Homo sapiens: one gene and its partners. The protein of the gene in region 2 interacts with the protein of the main gene of each other region in a pairwise test. Each region holds a gene or a part of one and is shown on either strand. Other genes may lie near its edges.

Evidence for each region.
Region 1: the proteins of ZNF17 (region 2) and YJU2B interact in binary tests that used the Homo sapiens proteins (3 or more experiments, as listed by UniProt).
Region 3: the proteins of ZNF17 (region 2) and ZNF438 interact in binary tests that used the Homo sapiens proteins (3 or more experiments, as listed by UniProt).
Region 4: the proteins of ZNF17 (region 2) and SET interact in binary tests that used the Homo sapiens proteins (3 or more experiments, as listed by UniProt).

Annotation. Positions count from the first base shown.
Region 1 is NC_000019.10:13,742,960-13,751,848, reverse strand, and holds the start of YJU2B (probable splicing factor YJU2B), read right to left. Parts: upstream 3,955-8,889; 5' UTR 3,895-3,954; intron 242-3,894; 5' UTR 41-241; coding exon 38-40; intron 1-37. UniProt on the Homo sapiens protein: May be involved in mRNA splicing.
Region 2 is NC_000019.10:57,406,504-57,415,037, reverse strand, and holds the start of ZNF17 (zinc finger protein 17), read right to left. Parts: upstream 3,878-8,534; 5' UTR 3,647-3,877; coding exon of another isoform or gene 3,632-3,646; intron 3,605-3,631; exon of another isoform or gene 3,558-3,604; intron 1,443-3,557; 5' UTR 1,423-1,442; coding exon 1,402-1,422; intron 1-1,401. UniProt on the Homo sapiens protein: May be involved in transcriptional regulation.
Region 3 is NC_000010.11:30,843,392-30,847,679, forward strand, and holds the end of ZNF438 (zinc finger protein 438), read right to left. Parts: intron 2,183-4,288; coding exon 1,570-2,182; 3' UTR 1,241-1,569; downstream 1-1,240. UniProt on the Homo sapiens protein: Isoform 1 acts as a transcriptional repressor.
Region 4 is NC_000009.12:128,684,811-128,693,181, reverse strand, and holds the start of SET (protein SET), read right to left. Parts: upstream 3,961-8,371; 5' UTR 3,600-3,960; coding exon 3,527-3,599; intron 3,209-3,526; exon of another isoform or gene 3,196-3,208; coding exon of another isoform or gene 3,156-3,195; intron 2,013-3,155; coding exon 1,955-2,012; intron 1,325-1,954; coding exon 1,182-1,324; intron 521-1,181; coding exon 417-520; intron 315-416; coding exon 201-314; intron 1-200. UniProt on the Homo sapiens protein: Multitasking protein, involved in apoptosis, transcription, nucleosome assembly and histone chaperoning. Isoform 2 anti-apoptotic activity is mediated by inhibition of the GZMA-activated DNase, NME1.

The DNA of each region.
Region 1 (8,889 bases), about 44 Mb from region 2:
GGAGAGAAACCCAGGGCACACGAGGCTGTCTACTCACCATCTTGGGAGCTGCCTACTGGTCCTCAGCCTCGGGGCGGACGATCAGAAACTGGCCTTGTGAACACACTGCACTGTCCTGACCTCTTGTGGAGCCTGGCAGAGGGTCCACAGGCTTCCCTGCGAAGATGTCGTGGGCCGTGTGGTGGTGCCAGCTCAGACAAGACTCCCGCCAGGCATAGGAGGCATCCAAAAAGCGGCGTGTCTGTTTAGAAAGAGAGAGTCCCGTCCACTCTACAGCCAATATACGCATCACATCTGACACTTTCATCCCTCTGTGGCCCCCACCGGGTCCAGCACCCATCATCACTCACGTGGGCCAGCACGGTCTTCTCTCTCCCGACTCTGCCCTTGACACTTGCTCACCCCACAGCTGCCCAGGGGATCTTTTTGTTTTTTGAGATGGAGTCTCGCTCTGTCACCAGGCTGGAGTGCAGTGGCGCGATCTCTGCTCACTGCAACCTCCACCTCCTGGGTTCAAGTGATTCTCCTGCCTCAGTCTCCCGAGTAGCTGGGACTACAAGCGTGCGCCACCACACCCAGCTAATTTTGTATTTTTAATAGAGACAGGGTTTCACCATGTTGCCCAGGATGGTCTTGATCTCTTTACCTCATGATCCACCCGCCCCAACCTCCCAAAGTGCTGGCATTACAGGTGTGAGCCACCATGCCCAGCTGGGATCTTTTAATATGAACAAACGTGTCACTCTCCTGCTTAAACCCCTCCCATGATTCATATGGTTTTTAGAATCAAGTCAAACCCCTTCCCACGGCCTGTGGGGCCCCTGCCTGCCTCTCCAAGCCTAACTCTTACCCCTCTATCTCTCGTTCACTCTGTTCCAGCCACACTGGCTTCCTGGCTGTCTTCAAAGGCCAAGTGCAGCTGGCCTGCACCTGCTGTTCCTCAGGTTTGCAAGCTCTTTGTTACAGGCTTTTTTTTTTTTTTTTTTTTTTTGAGACGGAGTCTCACTCTATCACCCAGGCTGGAGTGGGGTGGCATGATCTTGGCTCACTATCTCTGCCTCCTGGGTTTAAGTGATGTCATGCCTCAGTCTCCTGAGTAGCTGGGATTACAGGTACCCGCCACCAAGCCTGGCTAATTTTTTTGTATTTTTAGTAGAGACAGGGTTTCACTGTGTTGACCAGGCCAGTCTGGAACTCCTGGCCTGAGGTGATCCACACACCTAGGGCCTCCCAAAGTGCTGGGATCACAGGCACAAGCCACTGCACCCAGCCCCCTGTCACAGGTCTTGACCTACATATCATATCCATCAAAGACCTCATCCGGCCAGGTGCGGTGGCTCACACCTGTAATCCCAGCAGTTTGGGAGGCTGAAGCAGGTGGATCCCCTGAGGTCAGGAGTTCAAGACCAGCCTGGCCAACATGGTGAAACCCCATCTCTACTAAAAATACAAAAATTAGCCGAGTGTGATGGTGCATGCCTGTAATCCCAGCTACTCGGGAAACTGAGGCAGGAGAATGGCTCAAACCGGGAGGCGGAGGTTGCAGTAAGCCAAGATGGCGCCACTGCACCCCAGCCTAGGCTACAAAGTGAGACTCCGTCTCAAACAAACAAACAAAAAAAACCAATGAACTCATCTAACCATCCAATCCATAGTCACTTGTTTCCTGGAATTCTGATCATATCACCCTGTGTCGGTTTATGTCTCCCCCGGCAGGTCACACTGTGCCATATCCCTAACACCTAGGACAGTGCCAGGCCCAGATAAATGTCAACTGGGTAAACAACTGAGATAACTGAATGAGGCTCCATAAGGGTCACAGTCAGTGCAGGTGACACAGGTGGGAAATGCAGGGGCTCCTCAAACTAGGGGTGGTGAGACCCCCTCTCATGTTTGGAAGGGAGGCTTTTAGGTCATATAGAAGGAAGTTCTTCACGCCTGTAATCCCAGCACTTTGGGAGGCCGAGGCGGGTGGATCATGAGGTCAGGAGATCGAGACCATCCTGGCAAACACAGTGAAACCCCGTCTCTACTAAAAAATACAAAAAATTAGCTGGGCGTGGTGGCGGGTGCCTGTAGTCCCAGCTACTCGGGAGGCTGAGGCAGGAGAATGGCGTGAACCCGGGAGGCGGAGCTTGCAGTGAGCAAAGATTGCGCCACCACACTCCAGCCTGGGCGATAGAGCGAGACTCCATCTCAAAAAAAAAAAAAAAAAAGAAAGAAGTTCTAGTTTACACTAAAGAGAGACTCTGTGAAGCAGTGAAGGGTATTCTAGAACAGAGATTGGCAAAGTTTCTCTGTCAAGGGCCAGAAAATAAGTATTTCTAGCTTTTTAGGCCAGATTATCTCTGCCCCAACAACTCAACTCTGCTTTCATAGCTAGAAATCAGTCCCAAACAATATATAAATGAACGGGCGTAGCTGCATGCCAATATAAATTTTATTGATGGACACAGAAATTTGAATTTCACATAATCGTCATGTCACAAAGTATTATTCTTTTGATTTTTCCCCAACTACTAGAAAATTTAAAACCATTCTTGGGGGCCGGACTCGGTGGCTCACGCCTGTAATCCCAGCACTTTGGGAGGCTGAGGCAGGTGGATCACTTGAGGTCAGGAGTTCAAGACCGGCCTGGCCAACATGGTGAAACCCTGTCTCTACTAAAAATACAAAAATTGGCCAGGCCTGGTGGCGTACGCCTGTAATCCCAGCTACTGGAGAGGCTGAGGCAGGAGAATCGCTTGAATCTGGGAGGCGGAGGTTGCAGTGAACCGAGATCACGCCACTGCACTCCATCCAAGGTGACAAGAGTGAGATTCTGTCTCCAACAAAAAGAAAGAAAGAAGCTGATGGAAGAGCTTCTGATGGAGTGGGAGTGGTGTAGTGAGGTGGTGAGGCAGTGGTGCAAAGTCCCGGATATAAACTGTTCTACCCTCACCTTAGTCTTGTATCCTCCAACTATAAAGTGTGTCCTTTAGATTGGATTATTCCAAGGTCCCTTCCAACCTAAAAATACTTTTGCCAACAAAATAGCTAAGTGCCCCTTGAGGCGTTAGGGGACACGGCTCCCTGGGCTTGAATCCCAGCTCCACTCCTCATCAGCTGGGTGACCTTGGTCAGTGACTGCGCTTCCCTGGGCTTGTATTTCGTCACCGGTAAAGGGCGAATGACGACGACAAGACTGACTTTCTGGGGATGCTGTGAATCAACTAACCCACGGGAAGAGCCTGCAAAGAGCAAATACTCCGTTTACAGGAGCTCGAGGGTGTGTGTGTGTCTTAAGATGGTTTTGTTACCCCAGTAAATGGCAGACGGGGCTATCGGGTGGGCGTGTAGATATCTCCGGTCCTTGGTGCAAAAGTAATTACCGACCCTGTTTGTCCTGGGCTTACGGCTTGGGCTCGGAGCTCCACCCTGCTGCTTCCTATCTGCTTGACTTGGGGCAAATTGTTTTCTCTCTCTAAGCCTCATTTTCCTTATGTGTAAAAATGGCTGGTTAAGGCATTCAGGGCAGCGCCTGACGCCGAGTTAAACGTTTGGCAGTTTAGTCATTTCTGCTGCTCACGGTTTTACAAGAATCATTTTTATAAAATCTGGTGAGATAGGGACTTATTGGTCCCATTTTCCCGATGCAAAAACCCAGGACCCTTCAGGCATAATATGGATCCGGGCTAGGATGGGACCGGGTCCCGGGCACTTGGGTCAGAGGTCTCAGCTGGGGCCTCAGGGACTTTGGTCCTGGCTGGGACCTGGGCCGGCTCCGGGCATCTAAATCGGGTCCTCAGCTCCGCGTCCCCCGACGCGGAAGGGCGCGCCGGGCAGCTCCGAGGCCAGGGTGAGGCGGCTGCCGGACCCCCGGCCCTCCCCGCTCCTCCGCCCGCCGGCACTTACCTGCCCTCCTCCCGACGTCACGCCCTGACCGTGCCCGGAAGTGCGCGCTGAGAGCGCGGTGAACCTGGGCGCCCTCTCCGCGCCCCCAGGACGCCGGCGTGAGGCGGGGCGAGGCAGCAGCTCCACGCTGATTGGCTGAAGGACGATACGCCAAGCGTTCTGCGACGCCGGAGTGGGCCAATCCAGGAATGCCCCGCCCAACCGCGCTTACGCCAAGAGGCTCCATCCTCTGTCCAGCCCACTACGTGAGGCCCAATCCGAGGCCCGCCTCCTGGCACCGCCCTCCCAGGCGTGCTGTCCTGCGCGCTGCAGCCGGTCAGCGAGGGTGTGGTGGCGGGCCCCTGTAGTCCCAGCTACTTGGGAGGCTGAGGCAAAAGAATTGCTTGAACCCGGGAGGCAGAGGTTGCAAAGAGCCGAGATCGCGCCACTGCACTCCAGCCTGGGCAACAACAGCAAGACTCCGTCTCAAGAAAAATTATTTGCACAGGCAAGGTCTTACTATGTTGCCCCGGCTAGTCTCGAACTCCAGGGCCCAAGCAATCCTCCTGCCTCCCAAAGTGCTGGGATTACAGGCGTGAACCACTGCTCTGTTTTTGCATTTTTAAATAGTTAGGTGGGGGAAAAACTATTTTACGACTTATGAAAATAAAACATTCAAATTTCAGCGTACGTAAATAAAATTTCATTGGAACACAGGGATATGCGCTTTTGTCTGCTGATTGCTTCAAAATAAGGGCACTTGGGGGAACAGCAAATGCAGGGAAGGAGAGGTTTTCTCTGAATTTCTCTTATCTGCCTAAAGACAGAAAGAGGAATGCTTTCCTACGATCTTATTAACTAGGGAAGAGTGAAACCATTCCCAATCATGTATCCTTCTGAGGGCTGCTCTGAGACAACTTTTATTACCTGCAAGACTTTTTTATTTGCTTAACAAGACAGACTTTCTCCATCATACAATTTCTCCCCTTACCCTCCCATAACTTGTGTTACCACCATCCTCCCAGAAGCCCCAAACCCCTATTCTTTTCTTTGATACTTTTTTTTTTTTGAGAGGGAGTCTTGCTCTGTGGTCCAGGCTGGAGTTCAATGGCGTGATCTCAGCTCACTGCGCTCTCCACCTCCCAGGTTCAAGTGATTCTCTTGCCTCAGCCTCCCGAGTAGCTGGGATTACAGGCACCTTCCACCACGCCCGGCTATTTTTTGTATTTTTAGTAGAGATGGGGTTTCACCATGTTGGCCAGACTGGTCTGGAAGTCCCAACCTCAGGTGATCTGCCTGCCTTGGCCTTCCAAAGTGCCTGGATTACAGGCATGAGCCACTGGGCCCAGCCTCTCTGATCCTTTTTGGAGTCTTGTATTTTGTGGGACTCCCCTGCATAGGTACATAATTAAATATGGCTTTTGCCCTGTCTGTTTACATGTCAATTTAATTCGTAGCCCAGCCAAAGAACCTATAAAGGTGAAGGGAAGCCATTTTTCACCTACCTACAAACAGCCGGGCCCATTCATTTATCTATTGTCTATGTCTGCAACAGGGTTGAATTCAGTGGTTGCCACAGAGGAAGAGAGAGCCCAAAGAATCTAAAATATTTACCATCTGGCCTTTTACAGAAGAAGTGGGTGGATACTTCTCTTAGAGCCTTCAGATTAGCCTGGCCCTGCCTTCTGCACAGGTGAATGGCTTTTGAATTTACTTTTTTTTTTTTGAGTCGGAGTCTCACTGTCACTCAGGCTGGAGTGCAGTGGTGTGGTCTCAGCTCACTACACCCTCTGCCTCCCAGGTTCAAGTGAGTCTCCTGCTTCAGCCTCCCAGGTAGCTGGGACTACAGGTGCCCGCCACCATGCCTGGCTAATATTTGTATTTTTAGTAGAGATGGGGTTTCACCATGTTGGCCAGGCTGGTCTCAAACTCCTGACCTCAGATGATCTGCCCGCCTTGGCCTCCCAAAGTGCTGGGATTACAGGCATGAGCCACTGTGCCCAGACTGAATTTACTTTTATGCCTTGTAGGGCCTAACAGAATCTATTTGTTCATTCAACAGCTGAGCTGTTCATTGGACACCTGCTATATGTCTGGTCCTGGGGATTCAGAGAGGAAAGAACACACTCTTTTCTCAGTGATGAAGCAGACACTTCAACTGGCAATTTATCAAAGACAGGGTGAGAAGTGATGACAATATTACTACTATTCCTCCTGATATATATATATATCTATATATATATATATAGATATCTATAGATCTATAGATATCTATATATCTATATCTATCTATCTATCTATCTATCTATCTATCTATCTATCTATCTATGGAGTTTTGCTCTTGTTGCTCAGGCTGGAGAGCAAAGGCACAATCTTGGCTCACCGCAACCTCCACCTTCCTTCCGGGATCAAGCGATTCTCCTGCCTCAGCCCTGGGATTACAGGCATGCGCCACCACACCCAGCTAGTATTTTTAGTAGAGACGGGGTTTCTCCACGTTGGCCAGGCTGGTGTTGAATTCCTGACCTCAGGTGATCTGCCCACCTCGGCCTCCCAAAGTGCTGGGATTACAGGCATGAGCCACTGCGCCCGGCCTCCCCATGCTTTATTATTCGGTGCCAGGTTCCATCTCTGTTCTAAAGCCGGGCTCTACTAACAAATGAATTCTTACATAGTCATGGTGCTGCATACTGAGTGCTCACTACCCACTAGGCACCACTGAGCAATGCTTGGTGCTCACTCACACATGCATAATCTCATAGAATGCCCCTAGAAGGTAGATACTTTTCATCATTTCTGTTTTACAGATGGTGAGACAGGCCCAGAGAGGTTAAGTCGCACAGTTAGTGAGGGGTGGAGGAGCTGACCTACAACTGCTCATGCTAAACCTTGTTCCCTTGTCCTCTGAGCTATACTGTTTTGGGTTGTATGCATTTGACTTAAAAGACCATGAGACCCCAGAAAAATCTTTTTTTTTTTTTTTGAGACGGAGTCTCGCTCTGTTGCCTGGGCTGGAGTGCAGTGGCATGATCTCGGCTCACTGCAGGCTCCGCCTCCCGGGTTCACGCCATTCTCCTGCCTCAGCCTCCCGAGTAACTGGGACTACAGGCGCCCGCCACAACACCCGGCTAATTTTTTGTATTTTTAGTAGAAACGGGGTTTCACCATGTTAGCCAAGATGGTCTCCATCTCCTGACCTCGTGATCCGCCCGTCTCGGCCTCCCAAAGTGCTGGGATTACAGGCGTGAGCCACTGCGCCCGGCCTAACCCCAGAGAAATTTTTAAAGAGGGTAGGGTGTTTGAGAATGGGCTGGAGTGAGGGTCAGTAAGACCCTGAGACAGAGCAGGGATCCCCTTTTTTACGAGACCCCAAGCATGGAAACAAAGGAAATTTCTGAGTTCCTTCAAGGGAAATTCCAGGCCCCTAGCTAGCCTTGAGAAGTAAATAAGTAACTTGTTAAACAAAAAAGACATAATGATCCAAAACAAAAGCTAAGGAAGTTAGAGTCCCAGAGATGTTTGGTTTCCCTATAGAAATTAAAGATAACATCTTAACATATGTCCCTGAATTGTCTTTCAGAGTCTTGGAAACCCCAGATAAGGGGGAAGTGAAGACTAAACTTTATGTCCCTTTTGTTCCAAGTTTCCTCCTGAGGGGCTTGGAGAAAGTTACTTCCCCTAACCAGTTGACATGTTTCTACTGACTCAAAATTTTTAAACAAAGCTTCTCTTCCTTAATCCATTGCAAATCAGAAGATGTTTAAATCTTTTTCTTTTCTTTTTTTTTTTGAGACTAAGTCTCTGTTGCCCAAGCTGGAGTCCTGTGGCGTGATCTCGGCTCACTGCAACCTTCACCTCTCGGGTTCAAGTGATTCTCCTGCCTCAGCTTCCCAAGTAGCTGGGATTACAGGCACCTGCCACCATGCCCAGCTAATTTTTGTATCTATAGTAGAGACGAGGTTTCACTATGCTGGCCAGGCTGGCTTGAACTCCTGACTTCGTGATCCACCCGCCTCGGCCTCCCAAAGTGTTGGGATTACAGGCGTGAGCCACTGCGCCCAGCCTATTTTTTTCTTTTTCTTTTTTTTCCTGAGACTGAGTCTTGCCCAGGCTGGAGTGCAGTGGCGTGGTCTCGGCTCACTGCAACCTCAACCTCCCAGGTTCAAGCGATTCTCCTGCCTCAGCCTCCCGAGTAGCGAGGATCACAGGCATGTGCCACCGCATCCGGCTAATTTTTGTATTTTTAGTAGAGACAGGGCTTCGTCATGTTGGCCAGGCTGGTCTCGAACTCCTGACCTCAGGTAATCCTCCCATCTTGGCCTCCCAAAGTGTTGGGATTACAGGCGTGAGCCACTGCGCCCAGGCTTTCTATTTTTTTCTTTTTCTTTTTTTTTTCCTGAGACTGAGTCTTGCTGTCGCCCAGGCTGGAGTACAGTGGCATGATCTCGGCTCACTGCAACCTCAACTTCCCAGGTTCAAGCGATTCTCCTGCCTCAGCCTCCCGAGTAGCAAGGATCACAGGCATGTGCCACCACATCCGGCTAATGTTTGTATTTTTAGTAGAGACAGGGCTTCGTCATGTTGGCGAGGCTGGTCTCGAACTCCTGACCTCAGGTAATCCTCCCATCTTGGCCTCCCAAAGTATTAGGATTACAGGCGTGAGCCACCGTGCCCTGCCTAGATGTTTAAATCTATCTACGACCTGTAAGCCCCCACTTTAAGATATCCTGCCTTTTTAAGTGGAAACCAATGTGTAATCTCCATGCATTGATTTATGATTTTGCTTGTAGCTTCTGGTTTACTGAAATTTACACCTGCCTTAAAAAACCCCCACCTGCAAGCCATTGGTGATTTCAGGTCTTAAGCATGAGCTGCCCTGATTCTCCTTGCATGGTGCCCTGCAATAAACACCTTTCTTTCTATCACTGCAAAGACCTTAGTGTGGGTATCTGGTTTTACTGTGCTGGGTAAGCAGACCTCAGTTGGTTTCTGTAAGAACTCCTGTAAGGAGGGACC
Region 2 (8,534 bases):
GAAGCCTCTTAGAATCTAGGTCAAATCTGGCTGGGTGCAGTGGCTCAGGCCTGTAATTCCAGCACTTTGGGAGGCTGAGGCGGGCAGATCATGAGGTCAGGAGATCGAGACCATCCTAACACGGTGAAACCCTGGCTCTACTAAAAAATACAAAAAAAAGTTAGCCGGGCATGATGGCAGGTGCCTGTAATCCCAGCTACTTGGGAGGCTGAGGCAGGAGAATGGCGTGAACCCAGGAAGCGAAGCTTGCAGTGAGCCGAGTTCACGCCACTGCACTCTGGCCTGGGCGACAGAGGGAGACTCCGTCTCAAAAAAAAAAAAAAAGAATCTAGGTCAAATCACCTCTTTTTTCTTTCTCAAACCTTCCCTAGCTACTACCCCCCTCAGATTAAAGACCTAGAACCACTGGGCACGGTGGCTCATACCTGTAATCCCAGCACTTTGGGAGGCTGAGGCAGGCAGATCACTTGAGGCCAGGAGTTCGAGACCAGCCTGGCCAACATGGTGAAATCCTGTCTCTACTAAAAATACAAAAATTAGCTGGGTGTGTTGGTTCATGCCTGTAATCCCAGCTACTTGGAAGGCTGAGGCAGGAGAATTGCTTGAACCTGGGAGACAGAGGTCGCAATGATCCGAGATCACATCAATGCACTCCCGCCTGGGCGACAGAGTTAGCCTCTGTCTGGAAAAAAAAAAAAAAACAAGGCCAGGTGTGGTGGCTCAAGCCTGTAATCCCAGCACCTTGGGAGGGCCGAGGCAGGCAGATCACGAGGTCAAGAGATTGAGAACATCCTGGCCAACATGGTGAAACCCCATCTCTACTAAAAAATACAAAAATTAGCCGGGCATGGTGGCGGGTGCCTATAATCCCAGCTACTCGGGAGGCCGGGGCAGGAGAATCGCTTGAACCAGGAAGGCGGAGGTTGTAGTGAGCTGAGATCGCGCCACTGCACTCCAGCCTGGAGACAGAGCAAGATTCTGTCTCAAAAACAAAACAAAACAAAAACAAAAACCTAGACAACCTCAGGCTGCCATTCCATGCCTGATCCCTGCATGCCCCGACCTCCTGCCCTGCTGCTGTGCTCCTTATCCTTGCCAGCTAGAACATTAAGCTACAGTTCTCTAAGCATCCCATCTAAGTCTCACCACCAAGCATTTGAACATTCTAGATCCTGTGTTTGAGATGCCTTGCCAAATCTCAAACCATCAGTTGTGAGAACTAGAACCACTCTATATAACCAGGCACTGAGTTTGGAACCCAGGTCTGGTGGAACTACAGGCTCTCCTTGGACCCAAGGGAGAGAGAAGAAAAGGTGAACAGTCTCAGGATAACACCATTCCCTATATCAGCATGCTGAAACCATCTGGGATGGGTGAAAGCTGGAAACACTCTCCACTCACCTGTCCAGCATCCATAAGCATTGCTGCCACTGCTATGAACCCTGTGGGAAGAGGCAGGCCATGAGGATTAAGACAGCATTGCAGCATCCTACAGGCTGACTGTACAACCACCTCTGGCCCTGCAACTAGAGCAAAGTTATCTGAGGGTACACAGTAAGTCCTCAGGGTTCAGTGTCTTGATGAGGACTGAACTTCCTTAAGTCTCGGTGCCCTTATGTGTAAAATAGAGATTAAAAGGATTGCCAACTAATAGGGCTTATATGGGCATCAAATATAAGTAGTACACACTATGTATCAGCAATTTCTTTCTACTGGATTAAATATTTTTTACATGTTTTCGGTACAAATGACATGGAAGGGTTTTGAAATTTTGGGTGTGTATTTTTCCCACTTCTTACGGTGTTAAGGAAATGTGATACATAAAACTTTCCATTGCAAGCAAATAGAAAAATTAACATTCAGCCGGGCATGGTGGCTCAAGCCTCTAATCCCAGCACTTTGGGAGGCCGAGGTGGGCGGATCACGAGGTGCAGAGATCAAGACCATCCTGGCCAACCATGGTGAAACCCTGTCTCTATCAAAAATACAAAAATTAGATGGGCATGGTGGCGCATGTCTGTAATCCCAGCTACTCGGGAGGCTGAGGTAGGAGAATCGCTTGAACCCGGGAGGCAGAGGTTGCAGTGAGCCGAGACCACGCCACTGCACTCCAGCCTGGCGACAGAGCGAGACTCCGTCTCAAAAAAAAAAAGAAAAAAGAAAAATCAACATTCAACAATTATTAAGTGAATAAATTTAACTATTGGTTACATTCATTTCTAACTGCCGACCTATGTGTACATATTTAGAAGGATACTGGTTCATTAGTGGTTAAATAAATGTTTTATACATTCGGCCGGGCGCGGTGGCTCATGCCTGTAATCCCAGCACTTTGGGAGGCTGAGGCGTGCAGATCATGAGGTCAGGAGATAGAGACCATACTAGCTAACACGGTGAAACCCCGTCTCTACTAAAAATGCAAAAAATTAGCCTGGCGTGGTGGCGGGCACTTGTAGTCCCAGCTACTCGGGAGGCTGAGGCAGGAGAATTGCTTGAACTCGGGAGGCGGAGCTTGCAGTGAGCCGAGATCGCGCCACTGCACTCCAACCTGGGCGATGGAGCGAGACTCTGTCTCAAAAAAAAAAAAAATGTTTTACACATTCATAAATAAATAAGTTGCAGGGAGGGGATAAGCAAGCAGGTCAGTTACTGGTCCCATCAGCAACCAGGCCTGCCTGCTACAAATTCAGTTGCTGGAAGCTTGCTGGAGGCCCTTGACTAGATGTGAGAAAGCCCTACCCCCGTCTGGACCCAATGTCCCCACTAGTCTGGATGACCTTCCTATTGTTCCACAGAGTGGGCCTGGGGGGCTGCTGGGTCTGCAGGTGCAGAAATCTAAACCACCTCACACCTCAGTCTCCAGCCTAGGCCAGTTCCTTAACCCATTCAGAACTCCGTTTTTGCAGATATGAGCCAGAATCCCTCCTATGACAGGTCTGCGCCTTTCTAAAGGTAGCGTCAGGCTTATGGACCCACCCATGATCTGCCCTCCAAAACTCAGCCCTCCAAAATGCAACTCATAATCCTCTCTGAAACCTGCTCCCTAAGCTGACTTCTCCAACTCCATTCTTTCAGATTTTCAGGCCAAAACAAAATCCATGGAATAGACCCTTCACTACCCTCACTGCTACATTTGATGCAGCAGGAAATCCTGTCGACTCTATCTCTGAGATCCATCCAGAATCTCATCACACTTCCCCTCTACTGCAACCCCTCTGGCCCATCCCTACCATAACTCAAGGGGTCTCCTCAGCGGTCCCCTTGTCCTGGTTTAACATCCTGTTTTTCCCAACTTTAAACGTCTACCTCTGGGCATAACCCTTCCTGCACAGCCTTCTACGGCTTTCAGCAGCTCCGCTGCCCTCCCAGGCGAGACTCCGCCTCACCCTCAGCTCCGTGGAGACAAAGACGCTCGGGCTCCCCAGTGCCGCCCGCTCTGCAGCACCTCTAAGCCTCGCACGTGCAGGTCCCTGACAGGAGCTCCCCCGCCTCACAGCACCGCGGACACCGGTACCCCACACAAGAACGCTCCTCTCTTTGGGACACAGGGGCCTGACCTGCAGGGCCCCTCCTCGGGGCTTCGGCACTCGGAGGAGGGATCGGGCGGGGCGCCCTGGGACGCGGCACCCACCTCAGTCAGGTTCATCGGCGCAGCCTCCGCCAGCACAGCCAGGGAAGAGCGGGGCGGGAGCGGCAGTGACCTGGACGCTGACAGAGGCACCAACGCCTGCAACCGATTCAACCGAGCCTCACTCTAGCCTCTGTACAACGGGGAAACCTTTTCTCGCGTTTTTCCGCTTTTTCACCTCAGTCTCGACTCAGCCTGAAGGTGAACAGATCCCAACGCAGCCATATTGACAACCCCAGGAGGCGTTGCAGGAAGTCCCGCCCACACGCATTGCGAACCCCCGTAGACGCCGCTCTGCTAGGCCTTCATTGGCTACACTCGCTGCTTGTGTCCGCCGCTGTGTCTTTTGGGTAATGTAGTTCCCAGGCCACTGCCTGCCCCGCTTCTGAACTTAAGTTAACTCGCGTTCAGGATGAAAGCCAGGAGGATCCTCCTGAGGCTTTGAGAAATGCAGTTGCGGGGCTCCAAGGACGTGGAGGGGCTTCATTGGCTTTTAAACGGCAAGCATCCAGATTTTCCCGGAAGGCAGTCTAGAACAAGTCAGAGAAATGTTTCAGAGACCTGTCCTTTCAGATTCTGTAAAGCACAGCAAGTTCCCAAAAGACGAACATCCGAAGGAACATGGCCAACCATAAAGAACTGGTCTTCCACGCATAGCGGTCAGCTCTTTTGTGCTTGCCAAATACACACAGAACGAAGCTCTGGAGACTGTTTTATGATCTTCAATGTGCTCTGCTGGGCACATTGAAAAGACCCAGACATGGCATGATGGGGAGTTTGAGGAGTAATATCTTTCCTTTCTGAATAATCAGTTATTGTCTTTCAGCCTACCCAGCAACACTTTATTCACATGATACTTATTACTTTATATCTGAGATATTTTCCACTTATTTTAAGAGACTGAAACCTAACTGAAAAGGAAAAGCGACTTATCTACCATTATCTGCCAGAATAGTGTGGCCTTCCACCAGTCAAAGCCCTTGTGCAAAGAAAGCATCTTACTCCTGAGATAAAGGTTTGGGAATGCATGATCTCATCTCATTAGTGGAAAGTGATTTATCATTTCGCCTGAAATTGTATCAACAGTGTCTGCACAGGGAGTTGAAATTGTCTCTGAATAACTCTTGTGAAATGGCTATTACTGAAACTATTAATGACGATTATGTAGATATCCAAAGAAAGTGGCAAAAATAGTTATAGAGAAACATATTTGTGATAGGAGGAAAAAAGCTAAGGTTGTCCTGGAACCTTGGACACACTCAAGTTTGGTGTCCAAAATCTGATTCTTTTTCAAACTTGAAAACATTGTGCATTAACAGCTTGAAGGGAGAGGTAAAGACTATATATTAAAAGAGTTACCAGAAAAGTAAAGCTGAATAGGGAAACTGTGCTGTCGTATTTATTACTCTAACATATTTGATGAACACTCATTCGATGCCAGGTACAATACTAAGTGCATGGGACACATTAGGAGTAGGGTTGCTAGCTGTCTGTGGTCCTCTAAGACACGTAAGACGTATTTAATGAATTAGTCCTCAGTCCTGTATTGACCTTGTCAGGTCACTTTAAATGTCCTGTATTCCGCTTTTTACAATAAATTACAAAACCTCAGAAGTTAGAGCTATTTTTCTACCACTATAATTGTAAATTAAATCACTTAGCAGCTATGTTAGCTGAAAATCATACCCCCACAAATAAAGATATGGACATAGTCTTGTGATCTCTCCTGCAGAATTGGTGAGGGAAAAATAAAATGGAGCACTGAGATATTCAGTAAAGGAGAAGACTGTTTTTTGGCCAAAGTCTTGAAATTTGGTTTATCAAATTACAAAAAGAAGGAAGGAAGGAGAGAGAAAGAAGGAAACGAAAGGAAAAGAAAAAACCACCCAACTGAAGGTCTGGAAGAGTTAAAGCTGTTCAGTAGTGCCAGCTACATGGAAGTTAAGACGGGAGGATTACTTGAGTTCATAAGTTCAAAACCAGTTTGGGCAATATAGTGAGATCCCCGTCTCTGAAAAAACTGAAAATTAAAAACATGTTAATCATTTACCAACAATACATCCCTACCATCCTACAATTCTATTTCTAGATATTTACCAACAGAAACTAAACAAACTTTTTTTTTCTTTTTTTGAGATAGAGTCTCTCTCTGTCGCCCAGGCTGGAGTGCAATGGCACGATCTCGGCTCACGGCAACCTCTGCCTCCCAGGTTCAGGCGATTCTCCTGCCTCAGCCTCCTGAGTAGCTGGGATTACAGGCATGGCCACCACGCCTGGCTGATTTTTGTACTTTTAGTAGAGACGGGGTTTCACCATGTTGGCCAGGCTGGTCTTGAACTCCTGGCCTCAGGTGATCCACCCGCCTCAGCCTCCCAAAGTGCTGGGATTACAGGCATGAGCCACCTCGCCTGGCCCAAACATCCATCTAACACTTGGTGACAGGCCACATATCTTTGTGTATGTGTATGTATATATATATATATATATGGAGAGAGGGAGAGAGAGAGAGTCTCGCTCTGTTGCCCAGGCTGGAGTGCAGTCACACGATCTCAGCTCACTGCAACCTCTGCCTCCTGGGTTCAAGCAATTCTCCTGCCTCAGCTCCCGAGTAGCTGGGACTACAGGTGTGCACCACCACACCTGGCTAATTTTTGTATTTTTAGTAGAGACAGGGTTTCACCATGTTGGCCAGGCTGGTCTTGAACTCCTGACCTCATGATCCACCCGGCTTGGCCTCCCAAAGTGCTGGGATTACAGGCATGAGCCACCATGCCCAGCCCTTTCAACATATTTTATTAGGTGTTTCGCTACCTTTTGAAATTCCACTTTCATGTAATGAGCGGCTGTATGGTGACAATGGCCCAGGAGGCTCTGGACAGTGAGTGGACATTCTCTCCTTATGTCCCCACAAGGACCTCGTCTTGTTCAATGTTCCGACGTGTTTCCACTCATTCCTGTTCCTCACACTTCATCACCCCACCACTTGTAGACAACAATTCTAAAGGTCTGTTGTGTGTTTTTGTATTTACATGTGTTTTAGAAAGAGGAGCACTGTTACTTTTTGTGTAGTTTAATTGTACTGTACTATAGACTTCTTTCTCCCTTTGTTGGTACTCAAAATGTGTGTTTAATATGTATATATACTCCTGTGTCAAAGTCTACTTAAATGCTAGTAACTGCCCTGTTGTACTTTAGTGTGGACATTCAGTCTTCTACTTCACTCATAGATGTCTTTGGTCCTCCTCTTACACTTAATGCTACAACATATTGTCTCCATGTCCCTGCTGCCTTGAACAGTATTGTGAGAAAACTTCTCTCACATAAGAATTTATGGACTTGACTGAGAGATATACCAGAAACAGGCTTTCTGTGTCACATGATATTCTAGAAAATCATTTTTTTTACAGTACCTGTGCAGATTGCTTTATGAAACTGCTACAGTCTTTGACTCTTCCATGAAATATACATGATTGCAGCTACATCACCCCATATTTCTTTCCATAGTATAGTAATTTATAGAACTTAAAGTAACATGCAATAATATCTAATTTGCATTTCTCTGACACCGAGTTTGAATATCCATTCATATTCTTGATAACCATCTGATTTTTCTCTCTTGTTTATTGTATGCTCGTGCTTTAGTTCATTTCTAAGATCTCTGACTTTATTCCTTTAAGAAGAATCTGAAACTTTGGCTGGGCACAGTGGCTCATGCCTGTAATCCCAGTACTTTGAAAGGTGGAGGTGGAAGGATCATTTGAGTCTAGGAGTTCGAGACCAGCCTGGGCAGTATAGTGAGATCCCCGTCTCTACCAAAAAAGTTAAAAATTAGCCAAGCATGGTAGTGCGCACTTGTAGTCCCAGCTACTGGGGAGGCTGAATGGGAGGATTGCTTGAACCTGAGAGGTGGAGGCTACTGTGAGTGAAGATCACGCCACTACACTCCATCCTAGGTGAAAGAGACCCTGTCTCAATAAAAAAGCAAAAAAATCTAAAACTCGCATGCCTAAAACCGTAAAACTGGGCACATTTAGATATTTTAAATGTCTTCTCTGAGTCCCTGAACTCACTCAGTTTTGACTCATAATCTTTATGAAATAGAAAGCTTGAAATTTAGATGTAATTATATTAATTTGTTTTTTCATGTAACATTTTGTGCACTCTGGGATCAAAGAAAGACTTATCAGAGGGTAAATTCTGAGATCATTTTGTAGGTCTCACTCCAAAATTGTTTCCTTTCCATTTTCTATTTCTTACTCCCTGTTGACCTTTGTTAATTTTAATTTTTTCTGACATGAGTAGCTTAGTTGGAGGATAATATGAGATGGTGCTTATGAATGCTCCTAACTCCGGGCATGTCACATCATAGGTATTAAATATAAATAAAGTTTTTCCCTCTGTTCTTTCTGTATTATTGTATCTTCATTTCTTTTTCTTCTCTCTCCTTTTCTTTAAACTCCTAGTTTTGCCTGTTTTTTTCCCCATACTCTACCTTTAATCAGTAGGAGACAAAAATTCTAAACATCCCATTCTCAATTGCAAAATAAACTTTTAAAATCCCCCAGAGATTGCACAACCTAGTCCACCAAGTGAAACACCTGAGCACTCCTAGGGCGCTGAGGTTAGGCCTAAATACCCTACTGCACCCACTTCAGCCATCTCCTGCCTACAAGCGCCATCTGCTGGTCTAGTGGCTGGCCCACAGAGCCCGCTGCAACCACTGCTAATGAGCACAGCAAGTGCGACCCAGAAGAGTTTCGCACCACTGCCACCACCATCACGGATGCCACACCAGCAGCCCAGGGGCTCAAGAGTGCACTCACATGCTTGGTACACTGCTATCACAACCAGCATCTAAGAAAGCCAACCAGAGGCCCAAGAATCGGCCTGCCTAGAACTGCCAACA
Region 3 (4,288 bases), on a different chromosome or scaffold from region 2:
CAGTCTATGAATTATTTCATAGTTTGAATTCAAGTTTCATGGTTTGAATTCAAGTAGTATTCTTTGTAGAAGTCATTTGGTAATGTCTTTGAGACCAATATTTCAAAAAACAAACTGGGAACTGGTTTGAATGGTAAAGCGACTTCATTATTAACCAAGAAGTTCTAAAACTATCAAACAGTGGAGGTCTGATATTCCCTATTTGAAACTGGGTAAAGCGTGATCAACAGACAAACCACAACACAATCTTTCAGATATTTCTATCCCTACTCTCTTATTCCCAAATTTACAAAACTATTTGCAAAAAGACAAAGATTAAGTTTTCTCTTGTACTATTTGAGGCAAATCATGTCTACAAACACTGGCTTTTAAAATCAGACATTAAAAAAAGATGTAAGATCCATCAGCTTATCAATTAGAATTTAGTTCTTTCTCTGTTTAGGTAACTTCCTTGAGCACAAAATATTATGACCATACCTGGGCTGAGTTTCAGCAAACAGGGCTGGCCACACGTATGGTGCTTTCATCCAAGACTGAGATTATCAGTAGGATGAGTGCTGAAACTCCACTTTTCTAAGAAAATGATTTTGCAGCCAGGATGGCCAGAAGCTTCAAATGACAACTTTACTGATTCGAGGTAATTTCCCAGGAATTTAAGAGGCAATCATTTACTTCTGACTTTCAAAGAGAACTGGGCTTGAAAAGTACAGTTCCATCTAAAATTGATCAGCTAGCGACAACCCTCTGAAGTTACTTGGGAGTGAGGGAAAGCAGTTGAGACCCCTACACATCTGGACTGAACTATCTAGTTCATTTTCCAGGTTGTAAATTTTCTGGTCCCAAAGACTACTTGAAAATAACTTTTTACCAAGCAAGTAGACTTTTTATTAGCTGAAGTACTAAATTTTTTAAAAAATTATTTTGATATGGAACACTACAGCTATAAGACTTGCCAACAACTAATCTTCAATGAAATGTGCATTTAAGAAAATAGCAAAATTACAAGAAACAAAAATCTGAGTCCTGAAAACATGGATTTTAAATTATTGTAGATGACAATCTTATTAAAATACTGCTCTATATCATATTCAAATAAACCAGAGAATTTAATAAATATCAGCATTTACCATCTAACTTGATACTATGGTTGAGATTAAAAGGGTTTTGCTGCCTGGACATTTTTGACATTTGTCAATCTATATAAGCAGAAAACATCTGAACAAAAGGAAGGACACATGCATGTTTTCACTGAGAGCTGTATTTGAAGAACAGCCTATATTCTGCTAAATTTCAATCTTCAAATTTTGATCTTTTTATTTATTCTGAAAGTCTAAGATATTAAGAATCAGTACGTATTTTAAAATAAGACTGCATATAGTTAGAAAAATATGCTTCGAGAGCTTATATTTTATTTCGTTAAGAAAATAAAACCATGTACAAAAATCATTTCTGTTCACTCACACCAATCCTGTTGTTTGATCTTTGTGACTAAGCACCACCATAAAGCACGAAGCTCTGAAGGAAGGTGGCGGCAGAGCTCTCTCCTTAACCCCAGGCTGCCTTGGGGTCTCATTTCTCAGCTTCACTGGAAAGTTCGATCACTCCCTGGTTGGAGACCGTATTTAAAATAGCCCACAGTTTGGAAGGGTCCTCACAGTTATGCTGGTGCTTCCAGTGGTGGAGGAGGTCCTCTTTCCGTCCCAGCATCTCTGCACAAAGCAGGCAGTTAAAGCCTGAATGGGACCACAAGAGAAACGTGTGGAGGCCAGGACACTCAGGGCCCTGGCAGGTTTCCCTTGGCTTGTTGGTTCCTGACTGGGGTCCTTCATTTTCCATGAGCATTTCCACGCCATTCTGATGAAGGTGGAGCTGCCTTTTCAGTCTTGGACATGCATGTGATTCCTCGGAGGAGGAATGAACCTTCTCCGGCTTCCCTCTCTCAGGATGCCTTTTCCAGTCGGGGCTAGCGTGCTGCACCAACTCTTCCTGAGTCCCCTTGCTTCCTGGGAAGGTCCCTTCTTGTAGCCTGCCCTCAATTTCCTCTCCATGAACATCAAGTAAATGAAATTTTATTTCCGCAAAAGACTGAGCAGTAATCTGACAACGACCACATTTGATTTGTAATTTGACTTCGTCTGCCTGGTTTAGAAGGAAGTCTTCTTCCAGGTTGGACTTGTTTTCCCTGAAAAGGCCAATAATAATGAAGATAAGATTTCATGGAAAAATGCAATTGGAATCTTTCCTCTCAGCTGTCAGCCTTCAGGGATCTAAAACATAACACTGACGAGAAAGACAAGGGCTGGGGTAAACAGAGAGCACCTGGGAAGACCTTCTGCAAGGACCGTGGTGAATACTAATTGTCACTCCTGCTTGTGGCCACACATTTCTCCAGCTACCAGGGTTCATTTAGTCAACAGTCCTCTTCACGCATCTGTCCCAGGCGAGCTAACTCGTCTTTGGTTACCACAGGGACAGGAGCAATCACGTGGAAGAGTCACGTAAGAGCGCGTGAAGGGCACGGGAACACCCTCGGTTCTGTTGAAGGTAACGGTCCCACCCTACCCACTGTGGCTCTCCCTAACCTTGAGCACCAATACCTTCTATTCAATTTTGGCTCACTCTGTCATGTTCAGTAAAAATAAAGGGTGCCTACCCTATTTCTTCCTTGCTTTTCTAGAGTTTCTCCTTTTTCTTAGACATTTCTGTCCCCTTTAAGACCTCTGTGCCTTTCACTAATGAACCATGAAACCTCACTTCTTCCTTCTTTTCCTAGAGTTAGATTTTGATTTTTAGGTACAATGTCCAAACTACATTTGGCAAGAGCGTCTGTTTTCATTTGGGGAAGAGGAGAAGATTTCATATTCAGAAAGGAGCCAGTGAGCACCCAGCTGAAGGTGCAGCCGGGACTTGTGGGGCTAGTCCTGAGAGTGTCAGGTTCATTTGTGCAGGGTTGGCCAGGGCCACTGCACCACCTGCACCTTGCCTGCTGTTGCTGCTGGGAAAACATGGAGAGGAGGTGGGCAGTCCCTGAAACCTGCCGCCATGAGAGCCACTGCGATGGGGCCAGGCTGAGTCACCTGCTGGCAGGGGAAAACAGCACACTAGGGCATGCAGGAGTGGGTAGAGAGGGGCCCTGAGGCAGAGCTGGGCCAGGGGTGGTGCCACACTTCATGGAGCCAGTGGGAGCTGGGGACAAGCACGAGCCCTGCCCTTTCCAAGTTGACGGTGTGGGAGCTTACCAGGCACAACTGCCTGCAGCTGCCCAAGCTGCAGCTGTGACCCAGGCACCCCTGTGCTCTTGGAAGCTGGGAGCAGGCAGGAGCGCTCCTGCCCTCCCAGGCATCACTGTAGCTACCCTGCTGTGGCTGCAGATCCAGGCATCTCTGCACTCTCAGGGGTCCAGGAAGGCCCCTTTCCCCCCACGGGCTCAAGAAGCACCTGCTCCTGCTGCCTGGCTTCTCCCTGCTGTCAGCACCTGCTCCAATCTCAAAGCAAGGCTGGGGCTGAGCCTGGGCTCTGCTGTAACCTGGTTGGGTGTGCACACGCTTGAGGCAGTGCTGATATGCCCACCTCCTACCCCATTGGCCTGCTCCAGACTTTGGGTGCCAATAAGCATGGAAGGGAGGCTGAGGAAGGGGTGCTCAGGACAGCTCGGTGCCAGCCTGCAGGTGCCCCCTCAGCATGAACAGCCTGGGTGCCATAAACAGAAGCAGGGAGCAAAGAAGCTCCTGGGCAGAAAAGGGGAGGTCCCCGGTGAAGCCCCACCTTCAAGCCAGAGAAGCCCTGAAGCCTGGGGGCCAGGTTGCCAGTCATGTGGACTGGAGTGGGAACTTGTGGTGCTTTTCTGGGTCTGTCCATGACTGCCCATGGACCAACTGCACGCATTTCCTCTCCTCTGAGGCACATAAAAGCCCCGGACTTAGCCAGACTTGAAGAGACAATGGGACGACCAGTGGCAGAGAGGAGCTACCCTCTCTGCTGAGAGCACAAGAGATGACGGGGAAAACCTGCCTGCAGAGAGGAACTGCCCCCTGCAGTTCAACTCTGAGCTGTTCTATCACTCAATAAAGCTCCTCTTCATCTTGCTCACCCTCTACTTCTCTGTGTACCTCATTCTTCCTGAACGCAGGACAAGAACTTGAGACCTGCCAAATGGTGGGGCTAAGAGAGCTGTAACACAAACAGGCTGAAACACGCCTCTTGCTTGCCACACAGCAGGTGAAGAGAAGAGCTGCGGCCCTTTGGGGAGCTCTGTCCTGGGAGCCCCCTGAGCCAGGGCAGTGACTCC
Region 4 (8,371 bases), on a different chromosome or scaffold from region 2:
GAGATCTTCCTGCCTACATCTGTAGTATCTAATGAGAACCCTAAACTACTGTAATACTTGGCTTCAGCACACTGGAACGTTTTATATTTTAAGGTTTTGTATTTAGCCACATGACCAAAGTATCAAGCACTTGTAAGTGGTTAAAACTAAACTGAAATAGGCAAAATGCTATTTTTGTCAAATAATTCCTCAAAACATACCTTTCCAGATTTCCATTTGATTTCGGTGGACTTCGAAGATGGATCACCACTCTCATTCAGATGAAATTCTTTGGAGAGAACTTTATTTTCAAAGTAAGGATTTTCATCAAAATACTGTAATAAATAATTGAAAGATTAGAAATATGAACAGGTCTTCCAACCAAAGCTCACATTAATTTCCACAGTGGCAAACAAGATTAAGTTAGAGATACTTACAAAATCTATTCTGTAACCTGATTTAATATCTTCAAATTCTGTCACTTCAACTCTGGTCAAATAATGCAGTGCCTCTTCATCTTCCTCCCCAAGCAGTGCAGACACTAGGCCAGAAAATTACAGGTCAGCTGAATTTTCAACAGGCACACACTAACAACAATTTAAGTGATCCCTTTAAAATTTTTCCGAACTTAGTGAGCATCTTTGGTTTTATAAACCCATTATTAACTAAAGGCAATTGCTCAATATCAGACTGTCACTATCTTTCATCAAGCAATTAGAATATAGCTTCTCCTAAACAGAATAGAAAGCAGTAGCTGTATATCTTTTCCCGTCTTTGAGGTTTTTTTTTTTTTTTTTTTTTTTTTGAAACAGTCTCACTCTTGTCGCCCAGGCTGGAATGCAAAAGCGCACAATCTCGGCTCACTGCAACCTCCCCCTCCTGGGTTCAAGCGATTCTCCTGCCTCAGCCTCCCAAGTAGCGAGTAGCTGGGATTACAAGCGCGCGCCACCACGCCCAGCTAATTTTTTTTGTATTTTTAGTAGAGACGGGGTTTCAACCTGTTGGCCAAGCTGGTTTCGAACCCCTGACCTCAAGTGATCCACCCACCTCGGCCTCCCAAAGTGCTGGGATTACAGGTGCGCCACCGCACCCAGCCTGTCTTTGTTGCACGCAACCCAGCATGCTGGACTAAGTCTTCACCAAGCTTCCTCCATTCTAACAAACACTGTTTATCCTTTAACAATGCCCTGTCCAAAACATACCTTGTGGATGGTTGACAAATGTTGTTACCCAAAAATTTGGGATTTTGGCGATCAATTCTGACCTCTTCTGAAAAAATGGTTGGCGGAGTTTGTTATATTTCTGTTCTACTTTCAAAATCTCCTCACTGGCTTGTTCATTAAGTCTGAAGCAAATGAAAAGAGATGTTGACAATGATAGTATTTAACAAATTAAAAAATTGGTTGAGATTACAGAGTGTATTTACTTACTAGCTTGAGTCATGCAAAATAACCAAATTATAATAACCATTATCACCTAATTTAGACACTCAAAACTAAGATGGCAATTTTGTCTGATTTATCAATAAACACTGAGTAATAATGACTGTTAAGAGTGCCCAAACTCAACACTCTGGTAACGTGTGTATTTACTTCGCCCACTCCATTTCCAGTCCAATTTCAATTGTTTCCCTCAAGCGCGATTTCTAAATAAAGTGGCTAATCCATAACAAAGTTGTAAGGCAAGTTAGAGCAACCACTGATGCCACACTGCTAAACCATCAGAAGACCTACACTGCAATTCAGACAATTTTCAGTCTTTGAAAGCAAACCCAAACCTTGTAAGGTCAATGCACTTTCAAAAACTTCTGTACAATCACTTCACCAAAAAACACTGAATCTACATAAGTATTTCCAACCAAGTTAGAATCATTTCCCCTTTGACAGTGGATAGATTTGACCATAGCTTCGATAATTACCGGGCTATTAGACACATCTCAGAAAATTTCTCCGAAGTATATTAAGAAAAATGTTACCTGTCTATTTCATTTTGTACTTCATCAATGTGTTCAATCGCTTCTTGCTGTTCTTTTTCTGCAAAAAAGGAGCAAAAAACTTAATTCTAAGATAAATTTACCTAGTTTTCCAGATGTTAATACTATAATATTCCAAAAGCCATTAAAACAAAAACAAAAACGCCTAGTACAAAGGCAAGCGTTCCACATGTTCATGCTTGTAGCTGACTAATTTCTTTTTAATTAATTAAAAGACCATTTACAAGTCATGCTGTCTGCTGGTTTACTCAGAAATTGGTTTTCTATAGCGCCTTTTTAAAGAGTTTCACTACAACAGACCGATCATTAAGGTTTCTACTATGAAAGACACAGAATAACCTTATTCAGAAGTCTTCACGTTTATTATTTCACATTATACACTTGCAAGAGAACAGTAGCAGCTGCTAACTAGAATATGGAAACTAAACCCATGACAATGATACAAATTAGGCCACCACTACCACCTATCAAGGTAAAACCACCTTTCATAGAAAGTTGACGACTCTGCTATTACGATGAAGATACCAGGCACGCCTACAAAGACTGGAAAGTCACGGGGCACCATCCTACACCCTGGCCTTCGCCTTCTCAGAACATGAACCCCTCCAACCCAATTCAGGCGGGCAGACCTCAGATGCGGCCCCACACGACTTTGGAGCACTTACTGGGAGCAACTATGAGATCGGAAAGCAGTGAGGCACAGAAGGGAGAGGAAGAAAAGGGGGTGTGCTCTGGAATAGGTGCCCTTTTGTCCTGTAAAGACTACAAACCCCCTACAAAGCTAAGTGGGTGTGAAAGGGCCAGATCGCGCGGTTCATTTCCGGTAACCATCCCGGATTGGCAGCCCCCCTGCCGAGAGCCTCCTAGGCAGAGGCCAGCTTTCTTAGCCATTTCCAAGACCCCCGATACACTGGTCGCGGCGCCAGGTTTCTCCGCACGCTGGCGCGACGGGGCGGCCGCCCCACGTGGGGAGTGCGCCCGGGCTGGCCAGAGCATCCTCCCGGCCGGCCAAGGCCCAGCGCGCGGCCGCCCGCGTGTTCCCCGCGCCCCCACCCCACCCGAGCTCCAGGCAGAAGCCCCGCCGGGGCCAGCCTCTGGGCGGGGGTGCCGGGGGCGCCGCCGCGGGCCGGGCGCGAAGCGGAACCGCGCGGGAGGTCGGGCGCGGGGCCGCGTCCGGCCGCACCATGTGGCGGCGGCGGCGGCTGATGGGAGCGAGGCATCATGGCGGAGCACAATAAAGAGAGGCTTCTCGGGAGGGAGGGAGGGGGAGGAGAGCGAGGGAGGGGGGAGAGGAAGGGGGGGTCTCCTCCGCCCGCGCCGAGCAGGCCGCAGCGCCCCCGCCTCGCAGCGCGGCCGCCGCGGCGCGGGCCACCCAGGCCCCCAGCCCAGCCGCGCACAAAAAAGGGCGCCGAGTCCGCGGGCCCCCGCCCGGCCGCGCCGCGCCCCCCCGCCCGGCGCCCCCCGCGCGCGCCCCGGGCCCCGCCGGCGGCCTGCGGGCCGGGGCGGGCGGCGAAGATGGCGGCGCGGGCCGGCCCCCGGGCTCGCTGCTCTCACCTGAGGTCTCGTCGGCCCCGTCGTGGTTGGAGTTGAGCTCCTTTTTACTGACTTTGGCCGCCGGCGCCGACATGGTGCTGCTCCGCGGTCGGGGGGGGAGCGGGGAGGGGGAGAGAAGGGAAGGCGAAGGGGGCGGGCAAGCGGCTTCCCCTCACGCCACACGCGCGGGCGCCCGCTCGGTCCGGCCGCCTCCTCCCGGCGCTCGCTCGCTCTCCCTCCCCCTCGCTCGCTCGCGCGCGCTACCCTCGCGGCCTGACGCCGAGGGACGGGCTGGGGCGGCGTGCCGGGCCCCGGCCCGGGCTCCTGTTCGCGGAGGGGAGGCGGAGGCGGCGGCGGCGGGCGGCTCGGCTCCCTCACTCGCGCTCGGCGATCCAGCCAGCTCGCTGCTCGCTCTCCCGAGCCGCCTCCTCCTCCACCTCCTCCTACGGCGAGGGGCGGGCGCAGGGCGCAGGCGCGCCAGGCCCCGCGCGGATGCTCCGCCTCCGGCCGGGGAGGCTCGCGCCGCGGCGCCATTGGCCTGGGCGGCGGGATGAGGGGGCGGAGTCGCGGCGCGGAGACACAGGGCCCGGCGAGAGGTGGGAGGAAGGCGCGCGGCGACGCACGGCCGCCCCCCGCGCCGCGTCCCCTCCCCCGCTCTCCCCTCTCCGGCCCGACCCAGGACACTGGCGCGCGGCAGGCCGGTGGGCGGGGCGTCGCACGGAGGCGCGGGTGCCCCCGGCCGGCGCGTCACGTGGTGAGCGAGCGGCTTCCCTGCTCCGCGGGGCACCGGGAGCGGGGCGCCCACCACCCCGAAAGTGCAGGCCCGGCCTCGTATGGGGGCCCCGAATTCCGCCCGGCCTCTCGGCGCCTTCCACTTCGTGGAGAAAGCAGGGGGCACCCCATTCTGGATGCCAGATGGGGAACTGCCGATCGGACTCAAACTCGGGCTCGTGTGCGAAGCCCCAGGCTGTGTAATCCGCGCGCAGGGCCATTCCTGGGTTTTAGTCCAAGCCCTGCCCAGCAAGCTTGTACCCTTGAGCAAGTCACCCTTCCTCTCTGAACCCGTTTCTGTTATGAAATGATAAAGGTTACGACACTGAAGCCACATTAAACTCGAAGTCCTGTGAAGGCAGGGAGGTACCACATTAGTCCGCGGTGCCCAGCGCCCGCAAGAATCATACTGAGCGTTAAGTGCCAGTTTCAGCAGCGCATGGCACGGTTATCTCACCGAGGCCTCACAACAGCCCCAAGCGATAGGCGGTGTTCTGTTCATAGAGATGAAAGGGGCCAACAAGTTCTACTTGAGAGGCAAAGTTCTGAACCACTAAGGAGGGCCAAAGCATTTTGTTTAAATAATACTTTTCAAGTAATGCGGATGCCCCACATTCTGTCCCTCCAGCACCCCAAGACATGAACCATAAAAAGCCAGAAAAACCCTGATTAGTAGCATTTGTTTGTTTGTTTTGAGACGGGAGTCTTGCTCTGTCCCCCAGGCTGGAGTGCAGTGGCGCAATCTTGGCTCACTGCAAGCTCTGCCTCTCGGGTTCAAGCAATTCTCCTGCCTCGGCCTCCCGAGTAGCTGGGGCTACAGGCACGTGCCACCATGCCCGGCTAATTTTTGTATTTTTAGTAGAGATGGAGTTTCACCACCTTGGCCAGGCTGGTCTACTGACCTGGGGTGATCCACTCACCTCGTCCTCCCAAAGTGCTGGGATTACAGGCGGGAGCCACTGCGCCCGGCCAGTACCATTTGTTGATTTTAGTGATACGCTGGCCAATTTCAAATCCTGGCCATGCAATAGCTCACTCCTGTTATCCCAACACTTTGGGAGGCCAAGGCAGGAGGATCGCTTGGGCCCAGGAATTCCAGGCTTCAATGAGCCCCAATGCAGCCACTGCACTGAAGCCTGAGTGACAGAGCAAGACCCTATCTCTAAAACAAAAACAAAAAAATACCTGAAATCTCTCTTTGGACATTTTTAACCAGAACTTGGGGTTGGAATTCTGCCTTCCAGAACTCACACTTTACCATTGGCTCTTTTTTTTTTTTTTTTTTTTTGGTGGGGGAGGGGACCAAGTCTCATTCTGTCTTCCAGGCTGGAGTGCAGTGGTGCCATCTCAGCTCACTGCAACCTCCGCCTCCCGGGTTCAAGTGATTCTCCTGCCTCAGCATCCTGAGTTGCTAGGATTACAGATGTGAGTCACCACGCCCTGCTAATTTTTGTATTTTTTGGTAGAGACAGGTTTTCACCATGTTGGCCAGACTGGTCTCAAACTCCTGACCTCAGGTGATCCACCTGCCTCTGCCTCCCAAAGTGCTGAGATTACAGGCATGAGCCACTGAGCTCGGCCCACTATCAGCTCTTAAAGCTCAAGCAGCATCTTTCATGTTCAAGACAGTGCACGGTGAGTGTCTTAGCCTCCCGAGTATCTGGGATTACAGGCGCCCACTACCATGCCAAGCTAATTTTTGTATTTTTTAGTAGAGACGGGGTTTCACCATGTTGGCCAGGCTGGTCTCGAACTCCCGACCTCAGGTGATCTGCCCACCTCGGCCTCCCAAAGTGCTGGGACTACAGGCATGAGCCACCCACTGTGCCTAGCATAAACTAAACTTTGTTGCAAGTGACAGAACCAAGATTCTAAACCAAGTAGCAATTGACAAAGCCCTTACCTTAAAACAGTTTTTCTATTTTTATTGTTGTTATTATTATGAGACAGGGTCTCTCTCTGTCGCCCAGAACCATGGCTCACTGCAGCCTTGACCTCCTGGGCTCTGGGGATTCTTACACCTCAGCCTTCTGAGTAGCTGGGACCACAGGCAAGCACCACTGCCACCTTGCCTGGCTAATTTTGTTTTTATCTTTTGTAGAGAGGAGGTATCACCATGTTGCCCAGGCTGGTCTCAAACTCCTGAGCTCAAACCATCCTTCAGCCTCAGCCTTCCAGAGCTCTGGGATTACAAGAGTTAGCCATCGCACCCTGCCTCAGTTTTTTTAATGTGACCAACAGTCAGAAGTACTTTTGACATCATGACCTAGCACACACAAACCAAAACTTACCCTTACCAAGGGTGATGTGATTCTAATTTCCTATTTAAAATGCAGGTCACACCCCACCAAATTGATTTCACGACCCGCTCCTGGGCTGAGTCTGTCTGAGAACACTATGCCAAGGGCTGGCTGCTTCCATCCTCAAAGCCTGACCCATAGGGTCACTCCTGACCCACAATGTCTCCTAAGTGCCTTATCTGCCTGTTTCCCAAGCACCTGCAGGGGTCCCAGGGAACCCTGTAATGCCTTCTGATGGGGGAGTGGGCTTTCAGGTTCCCTTTCTGGCCTCCCAACCCTCCCTGCCACCTCCCTGCCCCTCTTTTCCTGCCCTTCCCCACACAGTGCTTCTCAAGATAAATATGAGCACACTAGGAAGTTGAAGAGAAAGAGAAAGCAAAAGGGCCAGGGGTGTGAGTAAACACAGGCGAGCCGGGGGCACACTGAGAGGTTATTCACCCACTCTTAGGACTCTGCTCTCTCCCCGTCTCCAACACCAGAAGCTCTGCATTCTCTCTTCTTGGCCTCTCCCCTCACTCAGAATTCCTCCCTTGCCTCTCTCCTCTCCTCCTGGCCCCTCTGGTTGTTTTTTTTTTTGTTGTTGTTGTTGTTGTTCTTGTCGCCCAGGCTGGAGTGCAATGGCACGAACTCGGCTCATTGCAACCTCCGCCTCCGGAGTTCAAGCAATTCTCCTGCCTTAGCCCCCCAAGTAGCTGGGATTACAGGCATGCATCGTCACGCCTGGCTAACTGTCTTTGGTAGAGATGGGGTTTAGCCATGTTGGCCAGGCTGGTCTTGAACTTCTGACCTCAGGTGATCTGCCCACCTCGGCCTCCCAAAGTGCTGGGATTACAGGCGTCAGCCACCGCGCCCGGCCCCCGGCTCCCTTTGAAGAGGACAGAACCCCACCGCCAGAAAGACTGGAACAGAGAGAGGCTGGCATTCCCCCACAGTGCTGCAGTGTCCCAAGCACAGACCAAAAAATCTCCAGAGCCTGGAACATCTCCCCCGCCACAGACACATACACATCTCTTTGAGCCTCCTGTTCTGATCTGTAAAATTGGGATGTCCACAGCATACGGCTGTGAGGATAGAGAAGTGCTTGGCACAGCTTCTGGCATGCCATCAGTGCCTACTAAGCAGCAGGAGCTGTTCTTTGGGTTTAGATGAACCCCCTCACACCTTTCCATCCCTTCCAGTCCTGTTAATGCTCCCAGGAAGCTCACTGGAAGGAAACTAGGAAGACTCACCCACATTTTGCTGCGCACAAATGCACTCTAGAGCACTGATGATGTGCTAGGCGCTGTCTAGTGCTCCCCTTAGATTTCAGACTCACAGCAAGCCTGGAGATCAGTACTGTGGATCCCATTTTATAGAAGAGAAAACAAGCACAAGTTGTTTTATGTGGCTCACCCAGCAAGGTAGGTTTCAAGCTGGGCAGGAGGTCTCTGCATCCCATGTGGAGGAAAAGGGACTGAGACCCAGTAAAAGTGCCAACAGGTCCACACTGAGCCCTGAGGTAGGACTCCTCCTCAGTGCTTCTTCCATAAGAGTTGCCTGCCCTCAGCCAATCAAAGCTTCCCGTTTCCTTGCAGGCCCTGGGCCTATCCACACCCAGCCCAGGAAGGCTCCACCACAACCCTCCCCTATGAGCCAGACCTAGTCACCAGAACAGTCAACTCTCTATCCAGCTCCAGCTACGTCTCCCAAAATGCAGCCCTCACCTCTAAGTTTAATGGGGGGAAGGGCAGGCATGAAACTGCTGGTTACAATGTAATGACAAGAGGGTGAGGCAGCATGACTCTGGGACTCCTAA